3 separate regions of the Homo sapiens genome follow, and all the other regions are reported to be linked to region 1. The links are microRNA targets in miRTarBase. Many come from high-throughput screens and were not tested one by one. Region 1 holds a microRNA gene; each other region holds the end of a gene's coding sequence.

Evidence for each region. The annotated mature microRNA hsa-miR-661 reads UGCCUGGGUCUCUGGCCUGCGCGU and lies in region 1 at 1,716-1,739, opposite strand. An mRNA with a match to its seed (bases 2 to 7 or 8) in the 3' UTR can be bound and repressed. Matches are read on the target gene's strand: a 7mer-m8 pairs with bases 2 to 8, a 7mer-A1 pairs with bases 2 to 7 and ends in A, and an 8mer does both.
Region 2: miRTarBase lists NDUFV3 as a target of hsa-miR-661. Seed matches in the 3' UTR shown: 7mer-m8 at 3,384-3,390, 7mer-m8 at 2,846-2,852, 7mer-A1 at 2,386-2,392 and 7mer-m8 at 1,034-1,040.
Region 3: the mRNA of PRRG4 is a reported target of hsa-miR-661. Seed matches in the 3' UTR shown: 7mer-m8 at 4,021-4,027.

Annotation. Positions count from the first base shown.
Region 1 is chr8:143,943,491-143,947,556 of GRCh38, forward strand. It overlaps MIR661 (microRNA 661), which reads right to left and starts at 1,789; the gene lies at 1,701-1,789. LOC124902040 (a long non-coding RNA gene) reads left to right here and starts at 374. Exons shown (of 2, transcript XR_007061144.1): 1 at 374-680; 2 at 2,076-4,066. It also overlaps a transcript of PLEC not described here. RefSeq lists a silencer at 421-690 and enhancers at 3,219-4,006, 4,007-4,066.
Region 2 is chr21:42,908,513-42,912,571 of GRCh38, reverse strand. NDUFV3 (NADH:ubiquinone oxidoreductase subunit V3) reads right to left here. Exons shown (of 4, transcript NM_021075.4): 4 at 1-3,708. The coding sequence ends at 3,551. Among named protein-coding and RNA genes, the nearest start is that of ERVH48-1, 15 kb to the left of the region's middle.
Region 3 is chr11:32,852,853-32,856,911 of GRCh38, forward strand. It overlaps PRRG4 (proline rich and Gla domain 4), which reads left to right. Exons shown (of 6, transcript NM_024081.6): 6 at 444-4,059. The coding sequence ends at 675. Among named protein-coding and RNA genes, the nearest start is that of PRRG4, 25 kb to the left of the region's middle.

The sequences.
Region 1 (4,066 bases):
CTGCCACAGGCCTCCCTTCGTGTGGGGGACGCTCCTGCCCTGCCGGCCTCCGCTTCCACCCACCTGTCCCGCACAGGCTGCAGGCTGAGGGCCACTGCAGAGCCCGCCCCGCCCTGGGACTGCAGCAGGGTCAGGGTCTACACTGCAGGGTGGGGTGGAGGGGCAACACTGCTTTCACTGACATTCAGCTTGGAAACAGGAAGGGGAGGGCGCAGGGAATGAAGGGGCGGGAGGCAGGCGGCCCCTCTGCCCCGCCTCGAGTCCCTGGCAGCCACCAGCGGGGCTTACCTTGCTCGTCCTGCGCCCACCGACGTCCCCTGCGCCAGTGCCACACAGCGGCCAGGGTGACAACGTGACCCACAACCACCAGGGAGGGAAACAGGCTGCCCGAGGGCTCCATAGCCGCCACGCGGAGCCGCCAGGGCTGCCCTTCCTGCGCTGGGAACCGGCTGCTCCAGGCTAGACAGCCCCCTCCCTGCGTGCAGGGCGAGCGAGGGGGAGCGCCGGGACCGGAGCCTGCCCTGCCCGCAGGACCGCCCCATACGCGGCGGCAGCCCCACAACAGCTCCCGCCCGCCTCCTCTCCTCCTCCCTCCGCGGGTCCGGCCCTCGGCGCCTCCCCACCCTCGCTCCCCACCCGGCCGGCTCAGCTGTCCCTGCGCAGGGCTACTGACGCTCAAGGTTAGTTGGCCTTAACCCCTGCGTCCCCGCGGCCACACCCGCCGGGAGGAGGGGCCAGCCGCACGCCTGGCCAAGCCGCAGCCCCCCAGCACTGCCCGCGGCCTCGGCACACACCCTCCCTCCCTCCCAGCCTCCCCCTGCTGTCCCCACCAGAAGAGGGGCCCGAGCAGCCCACTCTGCCTCCAAGGCTGCCCTCTGGGGACAGCTGGCAGGCATGGAGGGATGCCAGAGCCCCCACCTCAAGCCTGCAGCTGAACCCACTGCACTCCTTCAACTTCGCCCTCCTCACCAGCCCCAACACCCCAAAAGTGAGACTGCAGACCAGGGCTGAGGGGGTCTGGGTGAGGGCACATGAGGCAGGCTGTGTGCAGGGCGAGGGACAGCGCCCCTGGCCTCCAGCCTCAGCCCCAGCCCTCTGGCCCCTGTCCCCAGCAAGGGGCCAGGATTTCACAAGGCTTTCAAGGGCTGCCCACCTACCGGGCACGATCTTCATCGGGGACGGTGGCAGGAGCCCACGGGGCAGACGGAGCGGGCCAGGGGTGTGGGAGGTCACAGGCCCCTCGGAGGAGGCACAAGCCACTGGCGGCAGCGTCGGGTGGGAGGAGGGCACGGCCGTGCTGCTGTCAGCAGCAGCTTGTGGGGGAGGGGAGCAGTGGGCAGGGGCCCAGGGGATATAAATATCCGAGGAGGGCGCGCAAGGACCGTCACCACCCAGACTTGGAACATGACGCACGGCGCCAGGGCACCCAGGCCCCGCTGCAGTCAGGTCTGGCTGGACGGTGCCACCCGACACCTCGGTCCCCCAGCTCCCACAGGGGGTTCTAATATAATAGAGCAGGGCGCGGGAGGTGCGGGCTCACGTCCCTGCAGGAGGCGGTGCAGTCCCCACCCACCTGCCCTGCCAAGCCAGGGGGTGCTCTTGGAAAGGCCACAGGGGCCAAGAGAAGAGGCCGCCCATTCTCCCAGAGGGCCCTGCGCAGGTCACTCAACACAGCACCTGGCCCCACCGGTGGCCGGGACAGCCACCCCAAAGTCACGCGCAGGCCAGAGACCCAGGCAGCCCGAAACCAGGGCTCAGGCCTGCGCCTGCCCCACAGCACAGCCTCTCCTGGGGTCCCAGGGATCTGGGATGGAGACGCCTCTCCTGGGCCACGGCAGGAGACTGGCCTGGCTCCACCCAGGAGTCCCGAAGCCCTGCTCTGTGGAAGGCCTGGGTCAGAGAGCCGGGCCACAGGCAGGCCCACAGCATATCCTATGCAGATCAGATCCCAATGCAGCCGGGGAAACAGGACGTGGGACACGCACAGTCCTGCTCCTCTTCCTGGGACCCCTGTCTGCTGGGCGCACCCCTCAGGCCCAGGAGAATGCACGTTGACGGTATACCCCATTCCACAGCGTCGCTCCTGGCACCACATGGAACCCTCAGCAAACCCCATGAAGTCCTATACCATGAAGGCCTCATACAGACCAGGAGCCTGAGGCGCCGCCTGCTGTCCCGCACGCTGCCATCTGAGCCCAGGTGGCCTCCAGTGTAGTTACCTCAGCCCACAGCAAGGCACAGTGAACCAGCCTGGCCCCGGGCCACTGGGCAGGCCACCCAGGTCCATGCTGGGAAGCCCGCGGACAACAAGAGGGCCGGGCCCACCCCAGCCTCCTGCTCTCCAGCCCCACACCTCAAAAACGTGCGGCCGAGGGAAATGCCTGCAGTGGCCCACTCTGGGCGGCCAGGGGTCGGGCGGGCCCAGGCAGCCCTGAGGGTCAGGGATACCCAGGCATGCCAGAAAGGGCCCAACTCCCAGCTGAGCCCAGGACAGCATCTGGCCAGCAGTGGGCAGGGGCCGACAGGCCGGACGTTTCAGCCCACTCCCTGCCACGTGCTGGGGAAGCCTCAGAGGAGCCTGACTCAATGGCCTGGGTGAGAACCAGCTCCTGGCGGGAGGAGTGCCCCAGGCTGGCAGCGGGCAGTTCTTCTACCACTCCACGGAGGTCCGGACAGGCCTGTGCTTCCGGGACACACATCACACACACCCCTGGGGCAGCTCCGAGAGGGGGCTGTGCCTATCCCTGCATCCCAGGTCTGACGGCACAGAACGGTGGACAACGGGAAGAGACAGGTCTGCCAGAGGCGGCCCCGGCCCTCTCCTCTGCCTCCCACAGCCCCCAGCTCTGCCTGCCCTACCTTGGCCCAGCTGAATCAGCTCCTCCATGCTGTACCTGTCCATGGCTGCCACACAGGCCAGGCTGCTCCGAGAGCCGGCAGGGAGGAAGGCGAGGCAGGAAGGAGGGAAGGGGTGGGAGGCAGAGGGAGGGCCCACTCATGCCCTGGTAGCAGCGGCTCCTCCTCGCAGCCACCCCTTAGTCAGTAAGCAGAGATGAAGCCCAGCCGACTGACGGGTCAGACCAGCCCAGCAGACCTGCCTGGGGGTGCAGGGGACTGGCCTGCCTGCAATCCCAGAGAGCCCTCCGGCCCCAGCCCACGGGTCTTCCCTACTGTTCCTGCCCCGCCCAGCAGACCCCCCGCCCAGCAGACCCCACCCTGTAGCCTCCCCTTCCCGCTGCAGGCCCCACCAGCCCAGCCCTGCCCTCCCACCCTCCCACCCACATTCCAGGCATCCATGTGCCCAGCGGTATTTCAGGAGCCAGGCGGGAGCAGAGCCCCAAACTGCCCACCACACCCCACTCCTTGAGACTCACATTCCTCAGCCCCAAAGGTGGTCTCTTCCTCCACCTGAGTCCTCCCCAACCAGCACAGCCCCAGGCATCTGTCCAGGGGCAATGGTGACACCTGCCTCCCCTCTCCATACCTCTCCACCCAGGTGCTTGCTGACCAGTGAAGTGCAAATCAAATCCCATCGTAACTACCCCTTAGAAGCCTGCCGGCGATCTACAGAAATCCCGCAAACGGGTGACTCGGCCAAGCCAGTGATCCCTGTGGAAAGCTGGCCGGGCCATAGTCCCTCCACCTAGAGCACCCTGTGGCTGGGAAGAAGGGCAAGGCAGCCAGGCCACCTCCAGGCTTCCTCCTTGACGCAGGGCCACAGAGGGTCAAGGGGGGAGGTCAAGGCACAGGCGTGTCCTCCGTGTAGAGGGGAAGTCATGGTGGCTACCCAACCCCTGCCCTTTGCTGTGGGAAGCAGCTCTAGGTGCTGTGCGTGTACAGCGCTCACCGTGGTGGCGGCTACCTGGCCCCTGCCCGTTGCTGGTGCATGGACAGCGCTCAGCTGGCGTCTCCTCCACACAATCCTCGGTTCCTTCAGAATTTTGAGCCAGGCAAAGCATCGCCATTTGCAATGTAAATTAGGGCTGGGCGGTAGCTATAATCCCAGCACTTTGGGAGGCTGAGGCAGGCGGATCACCTGAGGTCAGGACTTCAAGACCAGCCTGGC
Region 2 (4,059 bases), not on the chromosome of region 1:
TTAGCCAGGACGGTCTCGATCTCCTGACCTCGTGATCTGCCCACCTCAGCCTCCCAAAGTGCTGGGATTACAGGCGTGAGGCACTGCGCCCGGCCTCCAACAGAACGTGGGAAATCACATAGACCCAAACAATGGCCCCTTGGGTGACCACTGTATTGCCACCAGATGGACTATCAAGAAATCATCTGCAGTGATAGCTACAAAATGCAGAGCTGTGCTTGGTGCTGGCTATTCGGTTTTAAGCCCTTCCAATGGGTGGAGGAGAGTAAACCAAAATCCCAGAAAGACTAGCCCAACAGGACTAGTTCTAAGGGAAGAACTTTATTTTTTTGAGACGGAGTTTTGCTGTTGTTGCCCAGGCTGTAGTGCGATGCTGCAATCTCCACTCACTGCAGCCTCTGCCTCCTGGGTTCAAGTGATTTTCCTGCCTCAGCCTCTTGAGTAGCTGGGATTACAGGCATGCACCAACACGCCCGGCTAATTTTGTAATTTTAGTAGAGAGGGGGTTTCACCATGTTAGTCAGGCTGGTCTCAAACTCCCAACCTCAGGTGATCCATCTGCCTCAGCCTTCCAAAGTGCAGGGATTACAGGCATGAGCCACCGCGCCCAGCCAGGAAAGAACTTTATACAAGTCTCATGCTTTATCTTAAAAATATATGCAAATCAAAATATATTCATGTTCATTTTAATATTAAGGGAATTTCCATTTCCAAAGCATCACCGCCCATCACAGTAGTTCCACGGATCCCAGCTTGAGAACTATTAAATGAAAAACCAAAAAATGCAAATAGCAGGATAGAAAAGTTGTAGGTACATTAAAATGGTTACACCTACCACCACCACTGGGGAATCCTGTAAGATGTTAATGGCTGGGAATGGGGGCTCACGCCTGCAATCCCAGAACTTTCTGGGGCCGAGGCAGGCAGATCTCTTGAACCCTGTCTCTACAAAAAATAGAAAAATTAGGCGGACATGGTGGCCAGTGCCTACAGTCCCAGCTACAAAGTGGGCTGAGATGGGAGGATTGCTTGGGCCTGGGAGGACGAGGCTGCAGTGAGCTGAGATCGCACCACTCCTCCGGGCAAGAGTGAGGCTGTCTCAAAAAAAAAAAAAAAAAAAAAAAAAAAAAAAGGGTGGGTTAGCATAGTGGATTTTAGGTAAGTTTACTATTTTCTTTTTGGTAATGTAGTTTTACCACTTTTATTATAAAAAATGTGTTTAGAAGAATCTGGCTGAGTTGCTAAGTCTCCCGTGTGGTAACACAATTTGAGGCAGATGACCACAATACTAGTTTTCAATTTTGATATTTAAAAAAAAAAATTTTTTTTTGAGATGCAGTCTCACGCTGTCACCCAGACTGAATGCAATGGCATGATCTCGGCTTACTGCAAACCCCGCCTCCCGGGTTCAAGCGATTCTCCTGCCTCAGCCTCTTGAATAGCTGGGATTACAGGCACGCACCACCACAGTTGGCTAATTTTTGTATTTTTAGTAGACACAGGGTTTCACCATGTTGGCCAGGCTGGTCTCAAACTCCTGACCTCAAGTGATCCATCCGCCTTGGCTTCCCAAAGTGCTGGGATTACAGGCGTAAGCCACCGTGCCCTGGCCCTCACCTACATTGGTTACTTTCTCTAAGTCAGACTGGGGGTCTGTCTCTGCAGAGTGCTGGGGGAGCGTGCTCCATGTGATGCACAGGAGCCCCCCACATTGCCCCCAAAGGTGTGACTTAAAGTTATCTATCACAAGGGATGGGAGGTTACTTGGCCAACCCAGAAACCCTAAATAGGTAAAATAGCTCATTGAGTGCCTGTGGCCAGCGGGGAGCAACTTCGTCCCTGCACCGCACAAAACTTCACCTCTTCCTACTCCGTCCCTGCACCGCACGAAACTTCACCTCTTCCTACTCCGTCCCTGCACCGCACGAAACTTCACCTCTTCCTACTCCGTCCCTGCACCGCACGAAACTTCACCTCTTCCTACTCCGTCCCTGTACTGCACGAAACTTCACCTCTTCCTACTCCGTCCCTGTACTGCACGAAACTTCACCTCTTCCTACTTCGTCCCTGTACTGCAAGAAACTTCACCTCTTCCGAATCTCACCAATGAAAATGTCCTCAAGTTTATATAAAATATCTAACAGAGGCAAACAAAACAATTCCCTTCCTTTTCTGATGGTAAAATACTGCAATACAATTTGTTTGCAATGCAGTAGTTAAAATTAGTAACATTCCTGTTCCTTTTTTTTGATTGAGTTTCACTCCTGTTGCCCAGGCTGGAGTACAATGGCACGATCTTGCTCACTGCAACCTCCGCCTCCCAGGTTCAAATGATTCTCCTGCCTCAGCTTCCTGAGTAGCTGGGATTACAGGTACCCACTAGCATGCCTGGCTGATTTTTGTATTTTTAGTAGAGATGGGGTTTCACTATGTTGGCCAGGCCGGTCTCAACTCCTGACCTCAGGTGCTCCACCCGCCTCGCCCTCCCAAAGCGCTGGGATTACAGGAATTATCCACTGCACCTGGCCAAAACTCCTGTTTCTAATGATCAAAAACCAGGGCTGTAGGATTAGAAGTCACTATTACTGGCTGGGTGCAGTGGCTCACGCCTATAATGCCAGCATTTTGGGAGGCTGAGGCAGGTAGATCATGAGGTCAGGAGTTTAAGACCAGCCTGGCCAAGATGGTGAAACCCCATCTCTACTAAAAATACAAAAAAAATTAGCCAGGCATGGTGGCGTGAGCCTGTAGTACCAGCTACTCAAGAGGCTAAGTAAGGCAGGAGAATCACTTGAACCCAGGAGGCGGAGGTTGCAGTGAGTTTAGATTGTGCCGCTGGACTCCAGCCTGGGAAACAGAGACTCCATCTCAAAAAAAATAAAAGAAGTCACTATTACATTATTGATACTCAGCTGATAATCAGTTTAATGCGAAATTGACTAGGCTGAGCACAGTAGAATCACACCGCTCTAAAGCACTTAAAATTCTCTAATTATATGGATTTGCCCAGTGATTCATAACCTTAGAGTTTAAGAAAAATTCCTTGCACATAGTAGATATTCCAAAATATATGTTGGATAATCAGTGTTACTGTTGCTAATTCACCACTCACTGTAAAAAGTGTGAAAGTGGCCGGGCGCAGTGGCTCACGCCTGTAATCCCAGCACTTTGGGAGGCGGAGGTGGGCAGACCATCTGAGGTCAGGAGTTCGAGACCAGCCTGGCCAACATGGTGAAACCCTGTCTCTACTAAAAATACAAAAGTTAGCTGGACCTGGTGGTGAGTACCTGTAATCCCACCTACTTGGGAGGCTGAGGTGGGAGAATCACTTGAACCCAGGAGGCGGAAGTTGCAGTGAGCCGAGAATGTGCCACTGCACTCCAGCCTGGGTGACAGAGTGAGACCCTGTCTCAAAAAAAAAAAAAAAAAAAAAAAGGTAAAAGTGAAACCGATTATGCACAGCGGGCCTTGTGACTCTTGAGTGGATTTTATTTTTGCACTCCAGGATGCAGTGAAGACGGTGGAAGGTTCATCTTCACACCGAGGGCCCTCAGTGTCGAGGTGACTCCCGGCCTGAGGAGGGCTGAGGCATCCTGAATTTTGAGAGTTCGAGGTTGAGGTCTAAGAAGGTGTACGTGCTGTAGTCATGATGCTGCAGGTTCTTGTAGGTAGTGTTGTCAAACGGCTCAGCAGGCACTGGGGCTGGCTCTGCGGAGGAAACACGATGCCCATGAGACCAACACAAGGACAGCTCTTTATGAATGACTCGGCTCACACACAGGCGCTTACCTACCAAGCATTCTTCATCATCCCTATCTGTGAACAGCTCTTTATGAATGACTTGGCTCACATACAGGCGCTTACCTACCAAGCATTCTTCATCAACCCTATCTGTGAACAGCTCTTTATGAATGACTCGGCTCACACACAGGTGCTTACCTACCAAGCATTCTTCATCAACCCTATCTGTGAACAGCTCTTTATGAATGACTCGGCTCACACACAGGCGCTTACCTACCAAGCATTCTTCATCAACCTATCTGTGAACAGTTCTTTATG
Region 3 (4,059 bases), not on the chromosome of region 1:
AACCTCTGCTCCTGGGTTCACGCCATTCTCCTGCCTTAGCCTCCCGAGTAGCTGAGACTACAGGCACCCGCCACCATGCCCGGCTAATTTTTTTTTTTTTTTTTTTTTTGTATTTTTAGTAGAGACAGGGTTTCACCATGTTAGCCAGGATGGTCTTGATCTCCTGACCTCATGATCCGCCCGCCTCAGCCTCCCAAAGTGCTGGGATTACAGGCGTGAGCCACCACGCCCGGCCCAGGATCAGATTTCAAACCCATGTCTGACTCAAAGCTCTTGGTCTTTCCACTGTACCAAGACTTTCAGAGTCTGGGGGTAAAATAAAACTGTTATATTAATACATTGTGTTTAATGTTTATTAAGATAGTTGGTTGGATTTTTAAATATTGTCCTCTCAACCTAAAAATGCTACCTTTCCTAGACCTAAATGTTGTCTCTCTGCTTAGCTCTTCAGCCGTCTATGAAAGGGGGAGGCACACTCCCTCCATCATTTTCAGAAGACCTGAGGAGGCTGCCTTGTCTCCATTGCCGCCTTCTGTGGAGGATGCAGGATTACCTTCTTATGAACAGGCAGTGGCGCTGACCAGAAAACACAGTGTTTCACCACCACCACCATATCCTGGGCACACAAAAGGATTTAGGGTATTTAAAAAATCTATGTCTCTCCCATCTCACTGACTACCTTGTCATTTTGGTATAAGAAATTTGTGTTATTTGATAGGCCGGGCATGGTGGCTCATGCCTGTAATCCCAGCACTTTGGGAGGCCAGGAGTTCGAGACCAGCCTGGCCAACATGGTGAAACCCGGTCTCTACTAAAAATTCAAAAATTACCTAGGCGTCATGGGGCATGCCTGTAGTCCCACCTACTTGGGAGGCTGAAGCAGGAGAATTGCTCGAACCTGGGAGGCAGAGGTTGCAGTAAGCTGAGATCACGCCACTGCATTCCAGCCTGGGCGACAGAGCAAGACTCCATCTCAAAAATAAAATAAAAAAAGAAAGAAAGAAAAGAAGAAGAAAAGAGAAGAAGGAGAAGGAGATGAAGGAGGAGGAGGAGGAGAAGGAGAAGAAGAAGAAGAAGAAGACCACAAAAGACATGACTATCCAACTTTTTATGACAAACTGCAAGGAATAAAGGAAGAATAAGTCCATGTACTGTACCACAGAAGTTCTGTCTGCATCTTGGACCTGAACTTGATCATTATCAGCTTGATAAGAGACTTTTTGACTCTATATCCTTGCAGTTAAGAAGAAAGCACTTTTTTGTAATGTTTGTTTTAATGGTTCAAAAAAAATCTTTCTTATAAAGAGCATAGGTAGAATTAGTGAACTCTTTGGATCCTTTGTACAGATAAAGGTTATAGATTTCTTGTGTTGAATATTAAAAAAGCAAGGATGTCTAACCATTAAGATTATCCAAAGTCAGGCTGGGCGCAGTGGCTCACGCCTGTAATCCCAGCACTTTGGGAGGGATAGGTGGGCGGATCACCTGAGGTCAGGAGTTTGAGACCAGCCTGGCCAACATGGCAAAACCCCGTCTCTACAAAAATACAAAAGAAATTAGCCAGACATGATGGCGGGTGCCTCTAATCCCAGCTACTGGGGAGGCTGAGGTGGGAGAATCGCTTGAACTCGGGAGGTGGAGGTTGTAGTGAGGCGAGATTGTGCCATTGCACTCCAACCTGGGCGACAGAGTGAGACTCCATCTCAAAAAAAAAAAAAAAAAAAAAGATTATCCAAAAAGATATTGGACCTACTCTTTCTTAGGATTTTTTTGGCGGGGGGTTAGAAATACTTCACAGAATTTGACATTTCAGTATAAATCTGTGACCTTAATATAATCACTTGGTTTTATATGTTAAATTATTGCACAGCAGTCATCATATTTTGCAGAGTTTAGTTCTTAACTCTTGCTGTCAGTCATGTTTTATTATAGGTAGTGGGGTCAGTAGTTTTCTTCTTCTAAAAAATACTATTTGCTATGAAGTTAGTTCTTCAGAAGATACAAGTTTGCAATGAAAAGGATTTGCAAGGGTTGTTATGCTATCAAATAAACAGACCTAAAATCTAGGAGACACTAGAACTTAATGAAGTTGCCCCTGTTACTGATTAGTAAATACTCCCATCTTCGTTGCAAAATTATCTCTCTGTATAACTACATATGATTATTTTGAAATTTGTTAAACTTCATAAGTAATAGTTTGAGAATGTGGAAAAAGTAATTTGCTTTTCTGCTCTTAAAATAATATTGATTAATGTTACCAGAAACCTTTTGCATCTCTTAATATGTCTGAACACAAAAGGAAAACACCATAATCATATAAACCCATTCTTTGTCTCTTCTTCTAAATCATATGTATAACCAGTTTTTCCTTAAGAATGTAGCAGCATATAAGCTATAAATTTCTGGAGTATATGCACACAAATTTATCTGGGTGGGTATGTAGGTATATGTGAGTTTGTTTCCTCTTCCAGGAGCTCAAGAAATAACATACTCCTGAAAAATAGAATAGAAATTTCTGTGCTTTATGTTTTTGCCAGGCTATTACATTTTCTTATCATTTAGGATCACTTATAAAATGATCATTGTTTATTTTGTTTTATAATTTTTACAGGAGTGAGACTGCAAACCCACATGTTTGATAGTTCCTACCAAATTAAAAGTTTAGAAAGCATAAATCATATTACAGTGCATATGTGAGTGTATGTCTCTCTTTTAAGATGCATCATCTTAAGGCAGATAAAAGTAAGTCCTTAATCATTACAGACTGCCAAAGACTTTATCCTTTTAGATTCTCAGTCTCTTTGTTGCTTGTTGCAAATAAATCATCTAGCAACATTTACATTTAATTAGGAAATCTAACTTGCTTTTAAAAGTTACCCACGTTGCATATAAAAATCTTGCTATTCCTTGTGTCTTGGCTTTACATAAGCACTTTTGCTCATGTGACTTTGCACTTTGCACTTATTTTAATCCTCTTTAAAGGGCTACAGGCAAATTCTACTTTGCCATAATCACACTAAGGCATGGAAGAACAACTTGCCCAGAATCTAGCAGGTTGGTGACAACTGGGTTTAGAATGAGTGAGCACACTTTTCTAGTCCCATGTCATGCCTATAAAATTACACTGCCTCGAATTATGAAATTCAGGGATCTTGTACATAATTCTAAGTTTGGGACAGAAATTTACAAGCATTTCTCATATATACATACATTTATATATGTACATGTTACATATATTTAGATGTATTCTCATATACATATGAAAATATTTATGATGAATAGAATTATAAGATATGTATGTATCTTGCACTGAATCATAATTTGAAATATTTCATGAATTCATTTACTTCTATTGACTCCCAAAATTCTAACTGCAAGCTAGCTTCAGAACCTGTGAGAACCCCACCCCACCCAAGCAGCTGCCTAGATTTGTCTACTGCTATCATTTTGTGTAAAGCAGTTGCTCTAACTTGAATGAGTCTAGAATTCATCATTAAGATTGTGATATTTATAGAGCATCCAATGTGGAGATCATGATACTTTAAATATAAAAAGGAAAATATGATAGAACTGTTATTGACAAATGCTTATAATGATTGAAGGGAAAGTATCTCAACATTGTATCAGTCACATATATTTCTGTTGCTTTCACCATTTTCTATTCCTGTTGTAAGTTTGGTGGTAGATTTAGTTTTGTTTGGTTTATCTGTTTTGTTTGTGTTTTGTCTCCTGGCAATTGATTAGTGTTAATCATTAAATCTATTTTGACACAAGGTTTTATATATAATTAGATCAGTTTTCCACTTTATTACAATTAAGAAATGAGTAAAATATGGATATAAAAGGAGAATTGGATTGAAAAGACAAATACACATTTACAAGGTCATACCTTTGGTAGGACAGACAATTCCATATAGAATATTCTCTTTTGATAATGAAAAAAATTAAAGAGAGCACAAACTTTGACTATGTCAAAGTATTTTTATTTTTAATTTTTTGAGACAAGGTCTTGCTCTGCTACCCAGGCTGGAGTGCAGTGGTGCAATCACAACTCACTGT